Linked DNA regions of Homo sapiens. The protein of the gene in region 4 interacts with the protein of the main gene of each other region in a pairwise test. Each region holds a gene or a part of one and is shown on either strand. Other genes may lie near its edges. The genes, in order: MAPDA, NUP43, BRWD1, CCK, RGR, HELLS and CITED1.

Region 1 (3,500 bases), on a different chromosome or scaffold from region 4:
ACCGTGCCCATCCTGATGTACATTATTAATGAGTGAGTTATTCTTAAGTAAAAAGTAGTAAAATTCCAGTCAGGCATTATCTGTTTAAGGAAGGAAACAAAGGCCTGCAGCAGTTTCTTTTGTTCTTCCTTGTTTAGTTGTTTTCACTCTGAGAAAAGGATACCTGCTCCTTATGTTTGCATTGTTACAAGCAGAGGCTGATTCTTGCTTCCTGCATCATGGGCACTTGTGAGACAATGCCATTGAGTGGATGCAGAATCATGTTTTATGGTAGTTACTAAAATGTAGGTTATTCATTCGCTTCTCAGGGAATAGTTTCTTAGGCCAGGAGCAAGCTGTGATGTGGTAAAACCTCTCTGGATAGAGATGAGATCTGGCTATGATCTGGAGGAATTTCCTGAGATCCTCCTTCTATAAGAGCAGCATCAGGAGACATTGGGGCCCTCTTAGCACCTTGTTTATGACCCAAAGAGACCTAGGTCATCTTGTTTCCTGATATATGTAGCTCAGTAATCATTTGGGGGTAAAATTTTTGAAACTTATTGTAAAGTATAAGTGTTTACATAAGATAAGGAGAAGGCTCTCATCTTGCATTTTTGAACCATAGAATCAGTTCCACGTTGTACTGGTGAGAGTAGTGAAAGGGAAGGAGAGAAGAGCCAACTCATAGGGCTCTTTCAATGGAGTTTTAAAAGAAGGATATTAACCTAAATATGCAACAGTAGAGGAATGGTTAAATAAAGGCTAATGGAATATTAGGCAACCATTAAAAATACTGGTGAAGACACTTTAATGACATGGGGAAATACTCGGACTCATGTTAAATGACTGAACTGGGTACATATATACCTAGTAGTATCTTCTCTATTTAAAAATGTGTATATGGGCAGAGTGCAGTGGCTCATGCCTGTAATTCCAGCGCTTTGGGAGGCTGAGGCAGGAGGATCACTTGACGCCAGAAGTTCGAGACCAGCCTGGGCAGCATCATAAGACCCCCCCCACCTCTATGGGCTCCAAGGGCTGCAGTGAACCATGATCGTGCCACTGCCCTCCAGCCTGAGCAACAGAGAGAGACCTTAAAAAAGGTCTCTTGAAATAATACATAAAAATAAATGTGTATATGTGTACTTGGAAAACAGTAGTTATCTCTGGGTGGTGGGGTTATTTTTATTTATTTATTTTTTTTGAGACGGAGTCTTGCTCGTCACCCAGACTGGAGTGCAGTGGTGGGATCTTGGCCCACTGCAACCTCCGCCTCCAAGGTTCAAGTGATTCTCCTGCCTCAGCCTCCCGAGTAGCAGGGATTATAGGCACATGCCACCACACTTGGCTCATTTTCATATTTTTAGTAGAGACAGGATTTCACCATGTTGGCCAGGGTGGTCTCGAACTCCTGACCTCAGGTGATCGGCCCGCCTCGGCCTCCGAAACTGATGGGATTACAGGCATGAGCCACCACACCCTATTTTTATTTTTATTTATAATTTTATATATTTTACCAGAGACTTTCCACCAAACATAAGCATTTTATAATCCGGGTAAAAGGGTATTTTATTTTACCCAATGTAGCCTAAAGAAAAAGAAAAAAAGGTATTTTACAGGAGGTTGCTCTGGAGAGTGCTCTTGCAGATCCCCTCAGAGAGCAGAGCACTCAGACTTGGAAGAACATGCCTGGTTCCCTGGATGAGAAACACTAAGCCCGAGCAGGATTGAGGGGAAAGGAATCCAAGTTAGGACTTTTTTTCTGGACTAGGAGGAGAGAAAATATCCCTTTTAAAAAAAAAAAAAAAAAAAAGGACAAGTGTAGTGGCTCATACCTGTAATCCCAGCACTTTGGGAGGCCAAGGCGGGCGTGTCACTTTCAGCCCAGGAGTTTGAGACCAGCTTGGGCAACATAGCAAAACCCCGTCTCTACTAAATATCCAAAAACTAGCTGGGCGTGGTGGTACCTTCCTGTAGTCTCAGCTACTCAGGAGGCTGAGGTGGCAGGATGGCTTGAGCTCAGGAGACAAAGGTTGCAGTGAGGCAAGATCATGCCACTGCACTCCAGCCTGGGTGACAGCCAGACCCTGTCTCAAAAAAAAAAAAAGCCTTTATTTTTTTTCATTTCATTTCTCTAACACTTCATTTCCCCCTAATTTTATTAAAATATAATTTGCATTTACTAAAATATACCCATAAGGGCCATGTTTTCACTCATCTTTAACTATGCCCTTGTCATAGCATAAAGTGAAAATGTAATTGTTCATATAGGATTGCTGAAGGTGAGGGATGAAATAGTTGATGATCTCTTTACATGTATTTTCTATGTGTCCTTTCTAGGAATGACTAAAAAGACTTATGTGGAATCTATACTTGAAGGTATAAAACAGTCCAAACAAGAAAACTTGGACATTGATGTTAGGTAAGAAGATTGTACCTTAGTAGTTAACATTTACAAAACCAGAATGTGAATTTTTACTGTTTTGATCATGGGTGTAATGGATTTTTTAAAATTAATCATTCATTGATTTATACAATAGAAAAATAAAATCAAGGACCCTGTTGTTTAAAGTGAGAACACAATTCTGAGTTTATTCATAAGGCAATAAAATTCTGAGTATTTTTACATGAGTAAAGTATGGTGTTCCTTTGCCATTAAGCTAAAATGAACTTCTTACTGTGGCCTACAAGGTCCCACATGATCTGGCTGCCTCTGTTACTTCAGCAGCTCATCTAGACCACTCCTCCTCCCTTACACGTGGGCCTGCTGTCTGTTCCTAAAATAAGCAAAAAAGACTGTTCCCCTTCAGCACCTTTGTTTAGTATTCCCCAGAACACATTTCTACCAGATTCCTGCCCAGCTGGCTGGCTTCTTCTCATTATTCAGATCTCAATTGGCTGTTACTTCCTCAGAGGGGCCTTCCTTTACCACTCTGTCTAAAGTGCCCTACTAATCCTCTAGTCACCCATCTATTTCCTTTATGGCATTATTTGTAACAAGATTAGGAATTATCTTGTGTTAGTTTGTATATATGCCCACCCACTAGGGTGTAAGTGTAGTGAAGCCAAGGACCTTGTTTTTTGATTCACCACTACATCTTTAGTACTTACCACAAAGTAGGTACATAGTATGGGCTCAGTAAAGCCCTAAATGAAGAAAGAAAAAAAGCTAGCTGTATAGTTTCAGGCTATAAGACTCTAAAAATTAAGCTTAAGTAATAACCCCAATAAAAAACCAAGCAGAAGACAATAGAATGCAGAGAAGAAGACATACAAAGAGCTGGTAGACATATAGAAATACAGAGAAAACTACTTAATTCATTAATCATATATTACAATACTGTTTCAGTAGGCTAAAAAAAGTAATAGCCAGTGTTTGTAAGTTACACACTGCTGGTAAGCATATGTAATTAATAAAACCTCTTTAAATCCTGCACTGGTACACAGGTAAGGGGGGAAAAACCTCTCTAAAGAGCAATATATGTCAAGATTTATAAAAAAGTTTTTCCCTCTGACAC
Region 2 (3,500 bases), on a different chromosome or scaffold from region 4:
ATACTCAACATTCCATCTTGGCCACCAGTAGCTACAACATGCTGTTGGTTGGGATGTCTATCAACACAGTGGAGTGGCACTCGGTCACCAGTCCTTTTGTGGGAGATAACAATGACGTCAAAATCAAATAAAGTATAATTTATCTTTGTGTAACACAGGAAACACGTTTTTTGTTTGTTTTGAGACAAGGCCTCACTTACCCAGGCTGGAATGCAGCGCTGCAATCATTGCTTACTGTAGGCTCAAACTCCCTGGGCTCAGGTATCCTCCCACCTCAGCCTCCTGAGTTGCTGGGAGTACATGTGTGTACCATCATGCCTGGTTAACTTTTTGTATTTTTGTAGAGATGGGGTTTCTCCATGTTGCCCAGGTTGGTCTCAAACTCCCAGGCTCCAGTGATCTAGCCACCCTGGCCTTCCAAAGTGCTGGGATGACTGGTAACCGTGCCCAGCCTGTTTTTTTTTGTTTATTTTTTAAGAGACCAGGCTCAGTGGCTCACACCTGTAATCCCAGCACTTTGGGAGGCCAAGGCAGGTGGATGACTTGAGGTTCAAGACCAACCAGGCCAAAATGGCGAAACCCCATCTCTACTAAAAATACAAAAACTAGCCAGGCATGGTGGCACATGCCTGTAGTTCCAGCTACTTGGGAGGCTGAGGCATGAGAATCGCCTGAACCCAGTAGGCAGAAGTTGCAGTGAGCCAAGATCATGCCACTGCACTCCAGCCTGGGTGACAGAGTAAGACTCTGTCTCAAAGAAAAAAAAAAAAAAGAGAGACAGGGTCTTGTCTTGTCACCCAGGCTACAGTGCAATGGCCTATCTACAGCTTGCTGCAAGCTGGGCTCAAAAGAGCCTTTTGCCTCAGCCTCCCAAGTAGCTAGGACTACAGGCACATGCTACCGTGCCAGGCTATTTTAAGAAATTTTGGTAGAGATGGGGTCTCACTGTGTTGCCCTAGCTGGTCTCAAACTTCTCACCGCAGATAATCCTTCCAAAATGTTGGGATTACAGGCATGAGTCACCATGCTCAGCCAAGAAACATGTTTTATATGGTAACTAAGTGTCAACTTAGTGGCTGGAGCTACTGGCTGAATCTTTTTTTTATTTGAGACAGAGTTTTGTTCTTGTTGCCCAGGCTGGAGTGCAATGGCACGATCTTAGCTCACTGCAAACTCTGCCTCCCAGGTTCAAGTGATTCTCCTGCAAACTCTGCCTCCCAGGTTCAAGTGATTCTCCTGCAAACTCTGGCTCCCAGGTTCAAGTGATTCTCCTGCCTCAGCCTCCTGAGTAGCGGGGTCTATAGGCACGTGCCACCATGCCTGGCTAGTTTTTGTATTTTTAGTAGAGACGGGGTTTCACTGTGTTGGCCAGGCTGGTATTGAACTCCTGACCTCAAGTGATCTGCCTGCCTCGGCCTCCCAAAGTGCTGGGATTACAAGCATGAGCAACCACGCCCAGCCTGGCTGAATCTTAATGATACCAAAAAAAATGAACTAAATTAGATATATTTCTAAATAGTACAATTTTGAAATAATTCAAGGCCACAATTATTCATTTTCACTTCAATTTGGAGACATGGAATGAAAGACAATCCGATGGTAAGATGTACAAATCACATTTCCACTTGTTAAATTATTTAAAAACTCATACATCAATTATATACTAAATATTATTTATCATCTTATTTAATGCTTAGTTTATGTAACTATTTTTTCAGTGTGACACATTCTATTTTCTTACGAGAGAACGTTGTACACCTACAAAGGGGGATTTCTGCTCAGAAAAAATATTTGGAATTATATTTTTCCCCCAATCATTACATCTGGAGTATATTTTATCCATTAAACAATCATTGAAAGAGCAGAAATAAGTTCTCCATGAAATAATACAAACTTCAAAGAGTAAAGGCTCTGAATCACTATAACAAATAATTACTAAATGAAGCATAGTAGTACCAACCCCGTCAAGTTATGCTTGCTCTACCAAATTTTAATCAGGGATCTCCCTCTTAAAATGCAATTAAAATTCAATATGGCTTAAAGCCAGTAGCTATAAACAACCTAACACATTAATTTGTGGATTACATTACTGAAATTACAAATCAACACTTACAGTGACAATATCTGAGAAGGCTCATTTCCTTGTTGTCTGAAATCCCATATTTTCAACTGTCCAATTGAATTTACAGTAAGAATCTCAGGAGTTCGAAGAAAGGTTACAGCATGGAGTGTACTACTATCTGCATTGTCTAAAAATTTAAAAAATGGTAGTATGTGTTAATGAGTCCCCTTTTTTTCCCAAGAAAATCTTAAATCACACTCCTTTCATGGATTGATATATTACAATTTCCAGTAACTTATAATTTAAATTTCTATAGAAAAATGCATGGTTAATGTATATGTTTAAATGGATTCTCTTTGGATGGGAAAAACATTTACTCACAGGACATCTGAACTGTTTTCTGTTTCTTTTTTTTTTTTTTGCTCGTTGCCCAGGCTGGACTGCAATGGCGCGATCTCGGCTCACCGCAATCTCCACCTCTCGGATTCAAGCTATTCTCCTGCCTCAGCCTCCCAAATAGCTGGGATTAGAAATGTGCCACCACACCCAGCTAATTTTGTATGTTTAGTAGAGACTGGGTTTCTCCATGTTGGTCAGGCTGGTCTCGAACTCCCGACCTCAGGTGATCCACCAGCCTCGGCCTCCCAAAATGCTGGGATTACAGGCTTGAGCCACCACGCCTGGCCTACTGTTTTCTTTTTCTTTTTGTTTTTTGAGATGGATCTCGCTCTGTCACCCAGGCTAGAGGGCAGTGGCGTACTCTGGGCTCACTACAACCTCCGCCTCCCAGGTTCAAGCGATTCTCTTGCCTCGGCCTCTCTAGTACCTGGGATTACAGGTACATGCCACCATGCCTGGCTAATTTTTGTATTTTTAGTAGAGACGGAGTTTCACCATGTTGGCCAGGCTGGTCTCGAACTCCTGAGCTCAGGTGATCCGCCTCACTCAGCCTCCCAAAGTGCTAGAATTACAGGCATGACCCACCAGGCCCAGCCTTGAACTGTTTTCTAAATGGAAGGCTGAGTTTTCATACATTTCTTTTTAACTCTTAAGATTGTTACCCTGCATTTCTGAGAGAGTTGTTCAAGCTCCTCTAAACCCAATCTTACTTCCCACTAGTCCCTGACCTAGAACTTCCATTCTATTGAGCCAAACTCCAGTGCTTCCTACAGAGCTCATTCTAACCTTGTATTATTCTGCAGACTCATCCCAAATCTACTCATTTTCACCCTCATCAACTCTCGCCCTCTCCATGAAGTCACTCCTTATTGTCATAATGGTCCTTTTTGTTGATTTCCTAGTGTTTAGAACTTATGCCTCATAATTTAACATATACTTTATGGACTTTAGTTTGTGCCACTCCTCTACACTGCCACCAGGCAATGGTCATTAATTAACAAATAAGTAATGTCGCCCAGTGCAGTGGGTCATGTCTGTA
Region 3 (3,500 bases), on a different chromosome or scaffold from region 4:
TGGGAGGGAGAGAAACAGCAAAGAGAAAAAAGTTTCAAGGGAAACTTTTTCGGGGGGAAAAAACCAATGTGTGTAAGAGAAAAGGATGGTGAGAGTCAATCAGTGAACAAAGATAAATGTTTTGAATTACCTTTCATAAAATTGTTTGGTTTTTCTATTTTGTCATCATCTGAATCTAAATCAGTTTCACATCCATGATCTGAGGAACACTGGGACATAGCAATAGGGTCACAGTTCAGATTTCCTGAAATTGGGTTCATTTCCATTTTATGACATTTCCCATCTTCTCTATCTTGCTCTTCAGATTCAGAGTCTTCTGAGTCACTCAGAATCTTGGTTTTTTTAAAGAAACTCGCATTCTTGTGAAATGTATTGTATTTCCTACCACCAGATCTTCCTGGTTCAGAATCTGCTTCCTCTGAGATGCTCTCTGCCTTAAGTTTCTGCACAGACGTTGATGGGCCAGCAGTTCTGTTACATGCATGATCTGAATCATGACTTTTAGAGTCTTCCTCAGAAGACTCTATTTTAAGAAATTTTGTCTTTGAAGGTGCTGGAGTATGGGACTTGTAACCATTAGCATGCCAATTTTTCCGGGCTACCCGCAAATCACTTTCTGACTCTGAGTCTCTGTTTTCAGATTCATCAACATTGCTCTGGGCAGTGTGAGAACTGGACACTGGTAATAGTTGATTTTCATCTTTTAGCTCCTCTTCTTCAATTTCTGACTTTAAGCTCTGTTCATCTTCAGAATTATGTAATAACTTTTTTCTAGCTACAGCAGAAGCATTGCGGTGAGGCAGCTTCCGACCAGAACAGACACTTTCAGAGCTAGAATTCTCTTCTACATCACTCATTAGCTTTATTTTATTGGCAGCCACAGCAGCACACTTCCTTAAGACTTTTCGGTTATTTCCAGCTCTGGCTTTTAGAATTTCACCAGTCTCCAATGAATTGTTATCAGAATCACTTAAATAGACTCTCTTTCGAGTGGCTTTTCTGCCACATCCATTTGCTAATGAAACGGGACCTAGAAATAAGGTTAACAATAAGATTAAAAAGATTTTCCTTATTTCAACATTTTTAAATGACTATTATTTTAATGATTTTCTTCACTTTTTTGGGGGGCGGGGAGGAGACGGAGTTTCGCTCTTGTTGCCCAGGCTGGAGTGCAATGGTGCAATTTTGGCTCACTGCAACCTCTGCCTCCTGGGTGCAAGCGATTCTCCTACCTCAGCCTCCTGAGTAGCTGGGATTACAAGCACCAGTCACCATGCCTGGCTAATTTTTTGTATTTTTAGTAGAGACAAGGCTTCGCCATGGTGGCCAGGCTGGTCTCGAAACTCCTGACCTCAGGTGATCCGCCCACCTCAGCCTCCCAAAGTGCTGGGATTATAGGCGTGAGCCACCGCACCCAGCCTTTTCTTCACTTTTTAATGCCAAAATTCATTTCCTTCCTAAATCTAAGGAACCTAAAGGACATTAACTTAATCTTACGTAGATGCATTAAATCGAGAATCTATTCAATTTATAACTTTTGGATTCTTTTGATATACATTCCATAAAAGTACTACTGAGTCTCTTACCAGTTTTTCTTTGAGCAGCTCTAGTTCTGGTTACCCTGAGATTGCTGCTTCTGGATAGCCCACTGCGTGAGGAGGATTCACGAGCTCTGGAACTCTCTTTGCTTTCCTCAGAACTACTGGAAGCTGACGATGACAAAGAGGTAGCTAAAGAATCTTCCACTTCACTTTCTAGGAAAAATAAAGTGTAAATAGTTACATATATTCTCCTGTCTTTACACACATAAGCAAGCAGTTCATAACATTACTCTGAACATTACATAACATTACTACAAAAGCAGATTCCTAAAATGCTTAGAATATATTTTTTAAAAACCATTCCCAAAAAAAGCTGATGAAATTTGGAGTATTAAAAGGTACATAATCAGCATTCCAAATAGTTTTTAATTATATTTCTAAAAATAACAGATTAATCCTAGTGTAGATTTACAAAATATAGTTTATGTATTTTATAAACAGACTTCCAATTAAAAATTTAATTAGCTGCAGGCCGGGCACGGTGACTCACTCCAGTAATCCTAGCATTTTGGGAGGCTGAGGTGGGTGGATCACTTGAGGCCAGGAGTTCAAAACTAGCCTGGCCAAATAGTGAAACCCCATCTCTACTGAAAATACAAAATTAGCCAGGCGTGGTGGCAGGACCCTGAAATCCCAGCTACTGGGGAGGCTGAGGCAGAAGAATCACTTGAACCCAGGAGGGGAAGGTAGCAGTGAGCCAAGATCGTGCCACTGCACTCCAGCCTGGGCGACAGAAAGAGACTCTGTCTCAAAAATAAATTAGTTAAATTAATTGGATCCATGTCTACTCCCTTCTGTGATATCAGATAGGTATTTCATATAAAAAAGACACCATCATTTCAATTCCAGCATTTCAGAAGACATAGTTTGCATGTCTCACCATCCTTTTACCCATTCCTAACAGCACAGTAAGGTCATTTCTTACATAACAGCTACACGAGAGAAAGAGTGTGAGAGGGAAGAAAAGAAAACTGGCTGTGATACCAAAATACTAGACACCAAATTGTGGTTCATCCTTTGAACTTGTTCTACTGTTTGCCCACCTCAGCTACTCCTGTCAACTCTACCATCCATCACCTTGACTCCCTGTTTTTCCAGGCTCTTCCCCTCCCTCTGCACATCACTGCCAAACTTAATCTTCCTGAAACATAATGTGACTCTGTCACTCAATAAGGAACCCAGTTCAGTAATCCAAACTCTTCTGCAAGGCTCGAAAGTTGCTAAACTTTGACTGTACTCTATCTGTTTGATCCCATTGTTTGTAACATTCCCCAAAACGGTCTTTTCATTTGCACAAAATGCATCCTTCTTTCCTTCAGTGCATTTTCTCATAGTTGCTACTAGGCTGTAATGTGTCCACTTATCACTAGTGCCATTTTCAATTACTCCAGCATACTCTGATTGGACATTCCATGCTATGAATGTATCCCTTAAAACACTGTACAGTTCTAATGTGATACACATGAACTTGCTTGTCTTTCTCCACGTTTTATCACAGTCCACTTCCATTCCAAACTTTTATCTGTATGTATATTTTTCAATGCTGTCAATACTATTTATTGAAATACTAGGTAAAAGATATGTATAAATGATTCAATTATAACAGTAAATAGTATGCTATTGTCATAATTCAGCAAAACCACTCAGAGCAGTACAGAAATAGATACACACCACAGCCTCATTTGTACAATGTTAACAAAGTTAGCATCAGCTACAGTTATGCTACCAGATGGCAACAACATGAACAGTTTAGAATTTACTACGTCATCAGCTTTGAACTTCATTGATTCTTAGTACTTCTTAATTTTTAAATTAAAAAGATACAAAAACTTCAAATGCTGCACACCAAGTGTGAAGAATCTATGTATCATGTAATTGACAATTCAATATAAATGTACC
Region 4 (2,930 bases):
TTCAGGTGAAATATTACCCTTGAATTCAGGAAAACCTATAGACCCAGTTACCTGTACACAGTCACATGGAAACATGACCCATCCTTCTGCCTGCTGTGATGATGAGTGCCCACTCTAAGGCCTGGGCACAACCCAAATTTCCATCTAATGGAAGCAAGGTGACAGCTTCAATACGAGCAAGCAGCCTCAGTTAACGGTGGGGGCACCATGTTCAGTCATGGAAGCTGCATTTATCACACACCCTGACTTCCCCGTTCCACGTACAGTTCTGTCCTCATGTCATGTGTATTTACCAGGGTCCTCACTCACTTTCCCAGTGCTGACATAGAGTAGGGGCTTACATCTGATGTATGGAATTGATCAAAGCCTGATTCCTATGGGCCACAAGAGATGGACGGGCCTCCCTCTGAATCACACAAAGAATTGGAAGGGGCTTATTGGAAAGCTAGCCTCGGGACTGTCTGCATGTCACTCAGCTAGTGGGCTGCTGAATCACCTTATTCCTGGAGAAAGACTTTGGTGCTGAGAAAACAGTGACTTTCTTAGCTCTTGCTAAAACTGAAGGGTTTAGCTCTTTTAAACTTTAAAATGTGGAATAGGCAGTACAGCTAGGAAGCTGAATGGCTTCCAGGCCCTCCTGGGGGGAGCAGGACTAGATAGAGTCTCAGCCCTGCTGTTGCGTAGATATGCAACTGCATGTAGGTTACTCAGGCTTTTAGAGCCCCAGCTTCCACACTGGCAAAATGGGTATAATAATATTCACTGTGCAGGGCTGTTGTACTGAGAAAGACAATATAGATGTAGCATTGAAGCTTTGCTGGGCATGGGGGAGGCGCACACTAAATGCCTCTAGATATCTTTACCCACTGCCCTCCAATAGAATTGTTTCTTCTTGGGCCATTGAAAGTGCTGCAGATATTTCCTAATGATAAACTCTTAAGTACTGCTCAAAGAATGCATTGTCTTGTTTAGAACTTTTAAGAATAATATATACTATAGTGGAGCAAAAATCTGATATGATCTCAAAATATGTAAAATATTCAAAATATGTAAAATATTCTATATACTGCACATATAGAAACTGTGCAGTATCTATATGTGTAAGTATTTAGTCCTAGTTCATGTTTGTCACATAGAAGAGTTTGCTTGTTTTTTAGCTAGAGTTGATCCTAGGTGTTGGCATCTAAATTTCCAAGTGATTGCTATTCCCTCCTGGGTTTGTTTGGCACAATTGGCTGAAGGCAAAGGGAGAGGGGGGCTGAGAAGAGGGACTAGAAAGAACTTTCCAGCTAAGATTTATGCTATAAGAGCCATTGTCTAGTATTGGTTCTAGGAAATAATTTGGTAATGAGCTTTTTTTTTTTTCTTTTTTTTCCCTAGAGCAATTTTGGAACCAAGACTCAATTCGGCACATTTCAGGCCTTTTTGCAGATATCCTCAGCCTACATAGAAGAAAAACCAGGGTCTTTCCTAAATTGGAGGAGGGGAGTCCAGGTCCACAGTTAAATGAAAAGCCTAGGATATTTCAGACTGGTCTGGCTGAAATTCAGCCTGTATCTGGGGACAGATACTAAATTATTTTCAGGCAGAGAATCAGCAGGAACTCAAAAGCTTTCAGACTTTCTCTCTCCATCTGAGAAGTATTTCTATCTTTTTCAATTTAATTAGCAGGAAAGCAAAACACAAGGTGGTGGGTGGGGCAATTTCCCAAAGACAGGAAGAAATACAACAAATCACTGATTTGTTCTTTCCTTCTGAAGCCTCTGGGTCAGAGTTCCAGTCTTCCCTTCATGTGAACCCACAGAAGAACTCTGCAGAGCCAAAACTCTTCATCTTATCCCTCTCTGGTCAAGCCAGGGGTTAAGGTTCAAATCCAGGCCCTGGAACACCAGTTGGGTAAGAGAGCTTCATGGAAAAGGCAACACACCTACCACATCCCTTCCAGCAGTGTTTGCTAAGTTCTTTTTTTTTTTTTTTTTTTTTTTAGACAGTTTCACTCTTGTTGCTCAGGCCAGAGTGCAATGGCACAATCTCGGCTCACTGCAACCTCCACCTCCCGAGTTCAAGCTACTCTCCTGCTTCAGCCTCCCGTGTAGCTGGGATTACAAGCATGTGCCACCATGCCCAGCTAATTTTGTATTTTTAGTAGAGATGGGGTTTCACCATGTTGGTCAGGCTGGTCTCGAACTCCTGACCTCATGTGATCCACCTGCCTCAGCCCCCCAAAGTGCTGGGATTACAGGTGTGAGCCACTGCTCCTGGCCTGCTGAATTCTTTTAATGTCCAGCTGTGTTTGTACTGTTCAGCACACTGCTCCACAGCCGGTGTTCATCATTAGTGTCACTGGGGATAAAGTTGGCAGAAAAAAGCTGCCCCAATCCAAAGCATGATTCCTATGGGTCACAAGAGATGAATGGGCCTCCCTCTGAATCACACAAAGAATTGGAAGGAGCTTAGGGGAAAGCTAGCCTCAGGTCAGAATTGCCTGCATGCCACTCGGCTAGTGAGCTGCTGAATCACCTTATTCCTGGAGAAAGACTTTGATGCTGAGAAAACTGACTTGCTCAGCTCTTGCTACAACTGTGACCATCTCTGCAACAGTAAAGTAAAAACAAATACCTCTCTTGTTGGGTAATAATTTGTAAGTCATTGCAAGGAGAACACAAAACTGCTGCTGATTCTTTCCTTCTGTTACATACTTTGGTGGAAATGGACACATTGTCACTGCTTTTTTAAACTGTTGTAGCCAGATCTCAGGCATTCTCAGCATTGACCCCTTCCTGCTAGAGGATTTCCAAGGGTTGGTATCTGGGTGGCTCCAAGGTCCTTTGCGTTTTCAGTAGAGGGTATTCACTGTATCTAGGAACCCTTTCCTAGGCTTCAATAATTATCTTTTAATGGCTTGGTAAAATGGTGTTGAACTTAATCAG
Region 5 (2,704 bases), on a different chromosome or scaffold from region 4:
GGAACTTGGGACCAGATGGGCCTCTCTGTTGTTTAAGACTGTGTGACCTTAAGCCTTTTATTTAAACTTGCCTGACCTCAGCTGCTGTGTCTGTAAAATGGCCTGACAATACCCAACGTGGCTGGAGGCCGAGACTGGGTGGATAATGAGCGCTTCCTCCTGGGTCTGTACTCTTTGTTTGTCAAATACAGAAGGGGTCTCACTATGTTTCCTAGGCTGGTCTCGAACTCCTGGGTTCAAGGGATTCTCCTGCCTCGGCCTCCCAACGTGCTGGGATTACAAGCATGAGCCACTGTGCCTGGCCTGCGTCTGTGCTCTTTAAGAGGAATCCTGGGCTCTGTGACTGCGTGCTCAAGGGGCCCCAGGCTGAGCTGCCCTCAGGCCTCAGTCCTAGAACCAACTCGTCATCCACAGCTACAGCCACCCGGCGAGACCACCCTGTCTGGGCTCCCAATGTGAAATACAATCAGCGGGGGAGGGGCTTGTCCAGAGAGCGGGAGATGCTGGGGTGCCGCCTGGGGCCATGAGGGGGCGCAAGACTCGCGCTTTAATTTCAGCGGGAGCTGCCAAGTTCCAGCCCCGCACAAACACGCGGACGTGCAATTCTGACGCTCAAGTTCTTGCCTGTTTTCTCCCTGACCTGACTTTCTTTAACAAAGAGGGTGATTAAGCTGGAAGAGGGCATATTTTCTTCCATCTTGGATTATTAAAATATGTTGACCAAGAGACTTTTTTTTTCCTCTTAACTGTCCCTTATTTGGGGAAAAAAAAACCCACGAACAACGGAGCTCAGCACCTCGGGGCCCTCCCGGGAGCCGAGGCCCTAAGACGTGGAATCCCCTGGGGAGGCTACGCGGTCTCGGGAAGCCGCTCAGCTTGGGATGAGGTCCCTGGACCCCTGCGTGTGACCTTGGCGATGCCCACCAGAGACAATGGTTTAAAGTCAACGCAGAAAAATGAGGAGATCATGGTGGCAGCCTTGTCTCCCGGCTGCCTGAGCCTCCAGTAAATGTGAACTTTGCACCTCCAGACAGGGCTTGGGACCGGCATCGCGGAGGACAGCCTAGAAGCGGCGCCTATGCCAGCAGCCAGCTGGGAGCCAGGGGACTGGATTCTGGTCCCAGGAAAGCCCTTTCTCTCCTTCTGACCTCGGGGGAGCATCGGGGCTCCAGCTAAAATAGATTTGCACAGTCCTTTTCCAATTTACAATAAATAAATAAAGTGGCAGATGAAGTGACTTAAAAAAAAGAGTTTCTTTCATGCACTGTGATTGACCACATGGGTGGTGGAGTCCCAGACCTAGGTTTGAATCCAGGTGTGTGGTTTTTGGTGAGTTGCTTAGTTAACCCCCATCTCAGCCTCAATTTTTTAGTCCGCGACACAGGGATAAGAAAACCTCCTTCTGGCCGGCACGATAGCTCAAACCTGTAATCCCAGCACTTTGGGAGGCTGAAGTGGGTGGATCACCTGAGGTCAGGAGTTCAAGACCAGCCTGGCCAACAGATACAAAAGATACAAAAATTAGCCAGGCGTGGTGGCAGGTGCCTATAATCCCAGCTACTAGGGACGCTGAGGCAGGAGAATCGCTTGAACCCGAGAGGCGGAGGTTGCAGTGAGCCGAGATTGCCACTGCACTCCAGCCTGGGCAACAGAGTAAGACCTTGTCTCAAAAAAAAAAAAAAAAAAAAAAAAAAAAAGAAAGGAAAAAAAAAAGAAACAAAGAAAAAAAAAAAAGGCTGGACACGGCAGCTCACGCCTATATCCCAACAATTTAGGAGGCGGAGGCGGGCGGATCACCTGAGATCAGGAGTTCGAAACCAGCCTGGCCAACATGGAGAAACCCCGTCTCTACCAAAAATACAAAATTAGGTGGGTGTGGTGGCACATGCCTATAATCCCAGGTACTCGGGAAGCTGAGGCAGGAGAATCGCTTGAACCCCAGAGGCGGAGGTTGCGGTGAGCCGACATCACACCATTGCGCTCCAGCCTGGGCAACAAGAGTGAAACTCGGCCTAAAAAAAAAAAAAAAAAAAAAAAAGAAAGAAAACCTCTTTCCTCATAGAGTGGTTGCAAAGAAATAATATTAAGATCTGAATTTGTTCTAATCTTTGTTGCTTGTTACGACTCCTTTGCTAGAGGTCATCCAGGTGACCAAGTTAAAATAAAACCGTGGCAAGGGAATAGTAATTCAGAAACTAAAAAATGGCCAGGAGGGCTTATTTTGAAGTATTGTATTTCTTGGACAAATGTGCTTATAGGTTGATTTTTATCTTTTGGGCACCACCCTGTGACTGTGATTAAATTAAACATCTCAAAGCGGTTTAAAAGTAGCATTTAAAAAGCCTGTAACTTTGTGCCAAACCTCACATCCTTGGCAAGAGTTAAGTGGAACAGCACGGATGTGTCCAGTAGGGAGCCCTGGTCCCCAGAGTTACGGGGTCTGGGTGAATCTGAGCAGTCCTGATCCTTGCTCCCCAGGCCTTGGCGATCTGAGCAAAGGGAGGGTGGTTTCCAGTTCTAACATCCTATGCTGTGCACAAGCTGGATTTTCTCTTGATCACTGAAAACGCAGAAAACCCCTGGTTGCTGTCTGTCACATTGTTCATATTCCCTGGTGTCCCTGAGAGGAAACGAGAAATTACTGCTGCTCTTGAGGCAGGAGAATAGCAGAGGGAATTGGAGGTTAAAGGGCGGAATGAGTAGA
Region 6 (3,500 bases), on a different chromosome or scaffold from region 4:
AATTTTATAGATTAGATAGTAGATATGTTTCATTTTATACAAACTCTTGACTTAAAAAGTCTAGTGGCAGATTTTTTAGTATTTTGTTTTCTCAACTAAACCAATTCCTCTACTTTTCAACAAGGATTAGTAAAAACACAAAGTCAACCAATAAAATCTAACTGCCCCTTTCCCCAGTAATTGGTGGTTTCAACTTAAGAGGAAAGTAATTGAGCATTGTTTACAGCGTGTTTGAAATGGGGGATATGAGGCTGGGCGCGGTGGCTCACGCCTGTAATCCCAGCACTTTGGGAGGCTGAGGCGGGCGGATCCCGAGGTCAGGAGATTGAGACTGTCCTGGCTAACACGGTGAAACCCTGTCTCTACTAAAAATACAAAAAATTAGCCGCGTGTGGTTGCAGGCGCCTGTAGTCCCAGCTACTTGGGAGGCTGAGGCAGGAGAATGGCGTGAACCCGGAAGGCAGAGCTTGCAGTGAGCCGAGATCGCGCCACTGCACTTCAGCCTGGGCAACAGAGCGAGACTCCATCTCAAAAAAAAAAAAGAAAAGAAATGGGGGTATGAATTCATTTTTATACTCTAAATAATGCCCTAGCACTTGGGTAGTTTTGCTGCTCCAGCTTATCAATATCTCTAAGATATCATTTTATATTGCCTTACATTTTCCTAGCTATTACATCATCACTATAGCTTTCTTTCAAAATATATTTCTTTTTCTTTTTTGAGATGGAGTCTCACTCTGTTGCCCAGGCTGGAGTGCAGTGGCACAATCCTGGCTCACCTCTGCCTCCGCCTCCCGGGTTCAAGCAATTACCTGCCTCAGCCTCCCCAGTATAGCTGGGACTAGAGGCACCTGCCACCACACCCCGCTAATTTTTGTATTTTTAGTAGAGACGGGCTTTCACCATCTTGGCCAGGCTGCTCTTGAACTGACCTCGTGGTCCACCTGCCTCAGCCTCCCAAAGTGCTGGGATTATAGGTGTGAGCCACCGTACCCGGCATCAAAATATATTTCTATTATAAAATCAGTGACTACAGTAAGATTCTAAGAATGGACCTAACAAAAGTAATGCATACTCATTACAGAAAAACTAAATGTCAAAAAATATATAAATCACCCATAATCCCACCTACACAGATAATTCTTAATATCTTGAACTCAATTTTCAGTTCTTTTAGGACAGAATTTCTTTTACTATTACCAGTATACTACTGTGGTTACAATACGCAACTACTGAGGTGAATATGAAAACAGGGAGATGAAAATTACTTACACAATATATGGATTCTTAAATTTTTAACTTTTAAAATTTAAGTTCAGTTAAAATAACGTGGGTTTAACTTAGATATAGTTGATACCTTAAATCCTGTACAGAATTAGCACTTTTTCTTTTTTCTGAGACAGGGTCTCGCTCTATCACCCAGGCTGGAGTGCAGTGGTGAGATCTCGGCTCAATGCAACCTGCGCCTCCCAGGCTCAAGCGATAATCCTCCTGCCTCACCCTCTTGAGTAGCTAGGACTATAGGCGCGTGCCACCATGCCGGCTAGTTTTTTAATTTTTTGTAGAGATGGGGTTTCACCCTGTTACCCAGGCTGGTCTTAACCCCTGGGCTCAAGCGATCTGCCCCGCCTCAGCCTCCCAAAGTGCTGGGATTACAGGCATGAGCCACCGCGCCTGGCCAGCACATATTTTTAAAACAACTAAATACAGCCAGGCATGGTGGCTCACGCCTGTAATCCTGGCACTTTGGGAGGTCGAGGAAGGCAGATCACGATGTCAGGAGTTTGAGACCAGGCCGGCCAATATGTTGAAACCCCGTCTTTACTAAAAATACAAAAAAAATTAGCTGGGCGTGGTGGCACGCGCCTGTAGTCCTAGCTACTTGGGAGGCTGAGGCAGAAGAATCGCTTAAACCCGGCAGGTGAAGGTCGCAGTGAGCCAAGATCACGCCACTGCACTCCAGCCTGGGTGACAGAGGGAGACTCCGTCTCAAAACAAACAAACAAGCAAAAAAAACCTAAATACTTGCCTGGTGCTCCTGGAAAAATTTTTCCTAAAAAAAAAAATCAGCTGGGCATGGTGGCTAATGCCTGTAATCCCAGCACTTTAGGAGGTCAAGACGGGCGGATCACCTGAGGTTGGGAGTTCGAGACCAGCCTGACCAACATGGAGAAACCCCATCTCTACTAAAAATACAAAATTAGCCAGGCTTGGCGGCACATGCCTGTAATCCCAACTACTCAGGAGGCTGAGGCAGGAGAATTGCTTGAACCCCGGAGGCAGAGGTTGCAGTGAGCCGAGACTGCGCCATTGCACTCTAGCCTGGGCAACAAGAGTGAAACTCTGTCTCAAAAAAATAAAAATAAAAATAAAAATCACTAAAGCTTTAAGATGCCATCATGGAAAAAAATAATATACAATTAATATTAAAATAATACCATGTAAGTGGTTAATCCTTAAACCTGGTCTTCTGTATTTCAAATCTTCCTATCACTGTTTTTTCTTTATTTATCAATTTCATGATTATATTACGGTAAATTGCAACTCCATCTATTAAAAGCACTGAGTGCCTGGCAGGAAACAACTCTGGGTAACTACAGTACAGAGTATGCCAATGGACACCGAGGGCAGAAATTCCTCATTATCTACCCCATTATCTCTCCCAACACCAATCCCAGATTTTTTATTGGGGGGTGGGAGGAGTTCTATTTTAGCCTACACATATCATGATCCTTTTACCTCTCCAAGAAATCTCCTGACTCCAACTATTCCCCCTCCTCCACTTCACAGGCACTATCAGTACTCAAATCTCCTAGACTAACAATGACTTCTTTTAAAGGGAAATACATGTGAAAAGTCAAAGAAAATAACTGTAGCCAATGAATGTCAAAGTCATTTTCTAGGTTCCTCACAAACCTTAGGATTTCCTAAAGCCAAATGCTTCTCATTAAGGAACTTAAGCTAGCTCTTCCTCTGTTAAGTACTTCTAAATACATGCCCATACAGACTGTATTCTCCCAAAAGAAAAGGAATCTCTACCTGTGCATAGTTAATTGTTTGGCCTCCAAAGACATGTTTATTAATCTCAAGTAGGTAGAGACTCTGAAAACTTTTCTTAGAATTTTCTAGTGTCATCTAGGCAATCACTTTTTATGAGGGTCCAGTGCAAAAAATAATCAAAAACTTTCCTTATCTGTACATAACAAGACAATGTAATACGAAACCACAACACTAATGTTTTAGCAAATTACACACTTATATTAAGATTGAAAACGGCTACATACTTTTTTTTTTGAGACGGAATCTTGCTCTGTCACCCAGGCTGGAGTGCAGTGATGCCATCTCGGCTCACTGCAACCTCTGCCTCCTGGGTTCAAGCAATTCTCCTGCCTCAGCCTCCTGAGTAGTTGGGACTGCAGGTATGCGCCACCACATCTGGCTAATTTTTATATTTTTAGTAGAGACGGGGTTTCACCATGTTGGCCAAACTGGTCTCGAAC
Region 7 (4,245 bases), on a different chromosome or scaffold from region 4:
GCAGGAAAGGTGCTTGATTCGGCCAGGTACTGCCCAGGCAGCCACCTACCCATATCACCAAGATGGGACATACTGCTTCCTCATGCAAGTGACTTCACAGTCCCAAGGTGTATGTGTGGGGGTGAGGGTGGCACTGTTCCTGGTTCAGAGGACAGGAATGTCCCTGAGTAAGCAACATATTGTCTCAATGGGCTACTAGCATCCAGGCTGGAGAGTTGGGGCCTCCACTGGGACTGGGAGAATGTGAGAAGAAGTCAGGGCAAGGAAGACCTAGAAAGCTAGAGGCTGCAGCACAGGGAAATAACAAGTCTCTAGCGCAAATGTCATGGAGCTCCAAAGCATGACCTTGGGCATGCCTGTGAGAAGCCAGGCTGATTAGGGTGGTCTGGGGGCTCTGAGGCAGCTGGAGCCAGAGAAGCTAGGAATGTGTCACTTTCCTCCATGTCTCAAGCCCCCTCCAAGACAGCCCCAGCATTGGGCTTTCCTAGGATGCCTACCCCAGAAACCTGAGTCCAGCCATTCCCATCTATAGTGACAAGTGAGGCACAGAGATTCAATGCCTTTTTAGTCAGGTAGCAGCGGTTCTGGGAGCAGAATCTAGCACCCCTATGGCCACATGCCTCACCTGACCACTGGCTAAGTCATCATACCTAGCTGGATTCAAAAGGCTTCCAAAGAAGTGATTTCCTGGCTCAAGTGCCAAAGGATAAGGGAATGAAGGCAAAAGAATACCTCCAAACCAGAAAATAAACAAACCTCTGAAAATCTCAACTTATTTTCCTGGAGGCCTGTTTACAAAGAAGAAAAAAATGTCCCATAGCTAGGCACAGTAGCACCCTCCTGTAGTCTCAGCTACTCAGGAAGCTGAGGTGGGAGGATCACCTGAGCCCTGGAGTTTGATACCAGGCTGGGCAACATAGCGGGACCCTATCTCTTTAAAAAAAAAAAGCCCCATATATTCTAGCTTTCATGATCAATTAGAGATGTAGAATTTCATATTTATAAATACCTCTTGGTCCAAAGAATCTTGAGGACCTTAAAAAGAGTCTCTAATCTTTCCAAGGAGGCTAGAATTCTCCGTGACACTCTCCACTCCGCAGCGGTCATTAAGAATCTGCTCAGACACTTCTAGAAAGTGGCCACTTACTACCTCTCTGTATCATCTTTGCATTGCTTACTTGGGTGGATGGGGGTAGGGGAGGGAAAAAATAGAGAAAGGGGTAAACATTTTTTTAAAAACATGAGGAAAAAATATCAGCTGTTGGGTCCCGCATCATTGCTTGATTGAAGCCCTGCTCCTTCTCTGAGGCAACCGTAGAAAAATATTTCAAAAGCAAGTGATCACCAGACAAGAAGTCTAACACATGTCGTCTTCAAGAGCCCTAGCACAATCAGTATCAGACAATTTTCCTGTCCTAAGAAAAATGTCTGGGGGCCCTGTCCATCTTTTCCTGTTCCTATCCAGCCTTCCCTCTCCTTTTTGCCGCTTGGTACCCGAATGTACAAAACGAAGAAAAAACAACAGGAGCAGCAGCAACAACAGCAAAACCAAAAGAGAAACATTAGAAAAATCAAAAGAGAGAACGAGCAAAAAAACTCTCTCTATTCTGATATCAGTTCGTGGGGGAAGACCATTTTACCGCGCCTCCCTCTTCAATCTGGGAGCTCCCCCAGAAGAGGCCCTGTGTCCATTCAGATCTTCTGCCTTCCATTACTGACCCACCACCCACCCTGACCCCAGCCTGGGTCTGCGCTCAATAGGCGCTCAGTAAGTGTTGTTGAATGCGTCTGAAGAAGCAATCGCATTTCCATCGGCATCCCTGGCTCTGCTTCCCCGGCTTTCTGCCCTCCTCCACCACCCTCTAGCCCGTTCGTGGGCAAAACTTGGCAACGCGGAAACGTCCCAGCCCGCTCTCCAAGCCGCGAGCTGACCACTGCGAAACGGCTGCGACAGGCGGCTGGGAAACCTAGAGCAACAAGTGCCTTCTCGCCGGCTGATGCCTGGCGGCCCCCCGGCCACCAGTTCCCAGTCCCGCTGCCCGCTCTTCGCTTCAGGCCTTCCCTTGGGCGAGCAGCCCCCTCCCGCCTAGACAGGGGTGGGAAGGGGAGAGGGAAAAGAGAAGGGAGAGGCAGGTGGGGGCCTCATCTTTAACCTGTTGGGGGACCAAAAGTTAAAATGGCACCAACCGGATGGTTCCATCTCGATTGCTATTTTCTCACTCAGAAGGAGAAATTTAAAAATCCAAACAGCACTGCGGCTTGGCTTGGACGCGCTCTAACCAGACCAGTCAGTTTCGCCACCTGAAAACTAAAGGCCCGTTGTTTGCGGACAGCTCGGCTGCCCTCCTCGCCGCATCCCAGATGGAGCCGCGGAACCGGGGGCGGCCGGGAGCATCCCTTGCACGGCGGGCGCGTGCACCCAGGCCACCGGGGCCCTGAGCGTCCGTTCCCGCAAGTGCTGTATCAGGAACTGATCTTAGAGACAGGATGGACAGGCAGGAAGGGGCACGGGGTGTCGGCCTCCGCGGCGAGTCCGCACTCCGGCGCCGGCTGCTGCCACTCTCGCGCCTGATCAACACTTACTGAGCGCCCGCTGAGCATCCGACGCGGCAGCAGGCTGAGCCTACCCCCTAGCCAAGCCGCCTGCGGTCAGTGCTAAAACCCCGCTAGGAGAAGAGTGAGAGAGGCTCGGAGAGGTGCGGTAACTTGCCCAAGGTCACAGCGCTAGAAAGTGGCGGAGCCGGGATTCGCAGCCAGGTCTCTCTGACTCCAAGTCCGGTGCTCTGCGAAGCAGGGACTCGGCGCGCGGCTCGCCAGCCCGCGTTTATAGGGAGAGGGGTGTGCGCGTGGGTGTGTGTGTGTGGGCGTGTGTCGGGGGAGGGGAGGGCTGAGGTCGACTGGGCAGTAGAGGCAAGTTGCCCAAATTCGCTAACTTCCATCCCGCAATTCCGCTGAACTCGGCCCGAAAAGCCCCCTCTTGCCTCAATTCCCCGAAGTAAATCTGAGCTTTGTGCAGCTCCGGAGCCAGAGCGTCCAGATGCGGTCCGGGAGATTAGCAAAGTCGGTGGAAGCCAAGCTGGAGAAAGCGCGGGCGCAGGGAGAAAAGGTGCTGCCGTCTCCCCGGGAGAAGCGGGCACCCGGCCCCGCTGGCCGGCAGGGGGGCGCGCTGGCAAGCGAACCCGAGCGCTGGCGGGCGGGCGGGCGGGCGGCCCCTCGCCCCCAGCAGAGCAGCTTTCCAACAGAAAGCAAGTCTCCCCAGAACCCTCCGGCCCGCCTGGCGGCCGCCCACTCCCCATACCCGCTCCACGGGAGTCCTCGGCCCCGCCGCCCAGCCCGGCGCCCAGCCCGGCGGCCCGGCTTACCTCTGAGAAGCCGCCTGCCCTGGAGAGAGGGAAGCGCGGAGCTCGGTGAGCCGCAAGAGAGGCGGCGGAGCCCCCAGCCCCTGGCACGCACGCCGCCGCCACCGCTACCGCGAACCGGTCGCGCTCAGCGCCCGCGGCCGCGCCGTTGGCCACCCGACCCCGGGGCGCCTGGGAAAAGCCCGCACCGCGCCGCGCCGCCGCTGCACCGCACAGTGCCGCGCCAAGCAGCCCCTGACCGAGCTGGTGCCCGCCCGCCCGCCCGCAGCTTCGGCGCCGGACTCCGGGGCGGTGGCGGTGGCGGCCACCGCGCTCCCTTCCCGGCGCTGGGGACCCGGCTCTCAAGCCCCCATTGCCGCCCGGAGAGCCCTGACGCACACGCACACGGCAGCAGACTGGCCTCGGCTAGGAATCCCAGGAAGGACAGACCCTTTTTTTCCCTTTTTTTTTCTCCCCTCAATTTCCACGTCTTTATAACCGGCTTAGGGCATTATTAGCACATGTCCTGGCTCGTGGGCGAGTTGGTGGCAAAATCTGAACTGGATACTCACGGAGGGCCCGCGCGGGTGCTGTGCCGTCCGCTGCTCTCTTCCTCCTCACCGAGAACTGCCCCTCGCCGGCGGACTACAAGAGGGCAGCCGGGCAGAGCGAGCTTCCTCTCGGCAGCTCAGCGGTGCCCCTTCTGCAGCTTTGCCGCCGGGCACATTTTTATAGCAGCGGCTGGCGTCTGTGGCCCTTTAAAGGCGCTCGAGCTGGTGCAGTCACCGCGGATCGTGTGAAAGCAAAGGGCCGGCTGGGGAACGGAGTCCACGCGGCCACGCGAGTCCGGCAGCCCTGTGGACCGGCCAAGGCTCCCGGGGTGGGGCTGGCGAGTCCGGGCTATGGG

The links.
Region 1: the proteins of CCK (region 4) and MAPDA interact in binary tests that used the Homo sapiens proteins (3 or more experiments, as listed by UniProt).
Region 2: the proteins of CCK (region 4) and NUP43 interact in binary tests that used the Homo sapiens proteins (3 or more experiments, as listed by UniProt).
Region 3: the proteins of CCK (region 4) and BRWD1 interact in binary tests that used the Homo sapiens proteins (3 or more experiments, as listed by UniProt).
Region 5: the proteins of CCK (region 4) and RGR interact in binary tests that used the Homo sapiens proteins (3 or more experiments, as listed by UniProt).
Region 6: the proteins of CCK (region 4) and HELLS interact in binary tests that used the Homo sapiens proteins (3 or more experiments, as listed by UniProt).
Region 7: the proteins of CCK (region 4) and CITED1 interact in binary tests that used the Homo sapiens proteins (3 or more experiments, as listed by UniProt).

What each region holds. Positions count from the first base shown.
Region 1 is NC_000015.10:43,340,672-43,344,171, forward strand, and holds part of MAPDA (N6-Methyl-AMP deaminase), read left to right. Parts: intron 1-2,322; coding exon 2,323-2,404; intron 2,405-3,500. UniProt on the Homo sapiens protein: Catalyzes the hydrolysis of the free cytosolic methylated adenosine nucleotide N(6)-methyl-AMP (N6-mAMP) to produce inositol monophosphate (IMP) and methylamine.
Region 2 is NC_000006.12:149,736,530-149,740,029, forward strand, and holds part of NUP43 (nucleoporin Nup43), read right to left. Parts: intron 2,250-3,500; coding exon 2,114-2,249; intron 94-2,113; coding exon 1-93. UniProt on the Homo sapiens protein: Component of the Nup107-160 subcomplex of the nuclear pore complex (NPC). The Nup107-160 subcomplex is required for the assembly of a functional NPC.
Region 3 is NC_000021.9:39,198,633-39,202,132, forward strand, and holds part of BRWD1 (bromodomain and WD repeat-containing protein 1), read right to left. Parts: intron 1,755-3,500; coding exon 1,587-1,754; intron 1,031-1,586; coding exon 131-1,030; intron 1-130. UniProt on the Homo sapiens protein: May be a transcriptional activator. May be involved in chromatin remodeling. Plays a role in the regulation of cell morphology and cytoskeletal organization. Required in the control of cell shape.
Region 4 is NC_000003.12:42,260,256-42,263,185, forward strand, and holds part of CCK (cholecystokinin preproprotein), read right to left. Parts: intron 1-2,930. UniProt on the Homo sapiens protein: This peptide hormone induces gall bladder contraction and the release of pancreatic enzymes in the gut. Its function in the brain is not clear.
Region 5 is NC_000010.11:84,255,053-84,257,756, reverse strand, and holds part of RGR (RPE-retinal G protein-coupled receptor), read right to left. Parts: intron 1-2,704. UniProt on the Homo sapiens protein: Receptor for all-trans- and 11-cis-retinal. Binds preferentially to the former and may catalyze the isomerization of the chromophore by a retinochrome-like mechanism.
Region 6 is NC_000010.11:94,548,788-94,552,287, reverse strand, and holds part of HELLS (lymphoid-specific helicase), read right to left. Parts: intron 1-3,500. UniProt on the Homo sapiens protein: Plays an essential role in normal development and survival. Involved in regulation of the expansion or survival of lymphoid cells. Required for de novo or maintenance DNA methylation. May control silencing of the imprinted CDKN1C gene through DNA methylation.
Region 7 is NC_000023.11:72,303,115-72,307,359, forward strand, and holds the start of CITED1 (cbp/p300-interacting transactivator 1), read right to left. Parts: upstream 2,801-4,245; 5' UTR 2,711-2,800; intron 2,309-2,710; exon of another isoform or gene 2,201-2,308; coding exon of another isoform or gene 2,188-2,200; intron 1-2,187. UniProt on the Homo sapiens protein: Transcriptional coactivator of the p300/CBP-mediated transcription complex. Enhances SMAD-mediated transcription by strengthening the functional link between the DNA-binding SMAD transcription factors and the p300/CBP transcription coactivator complex.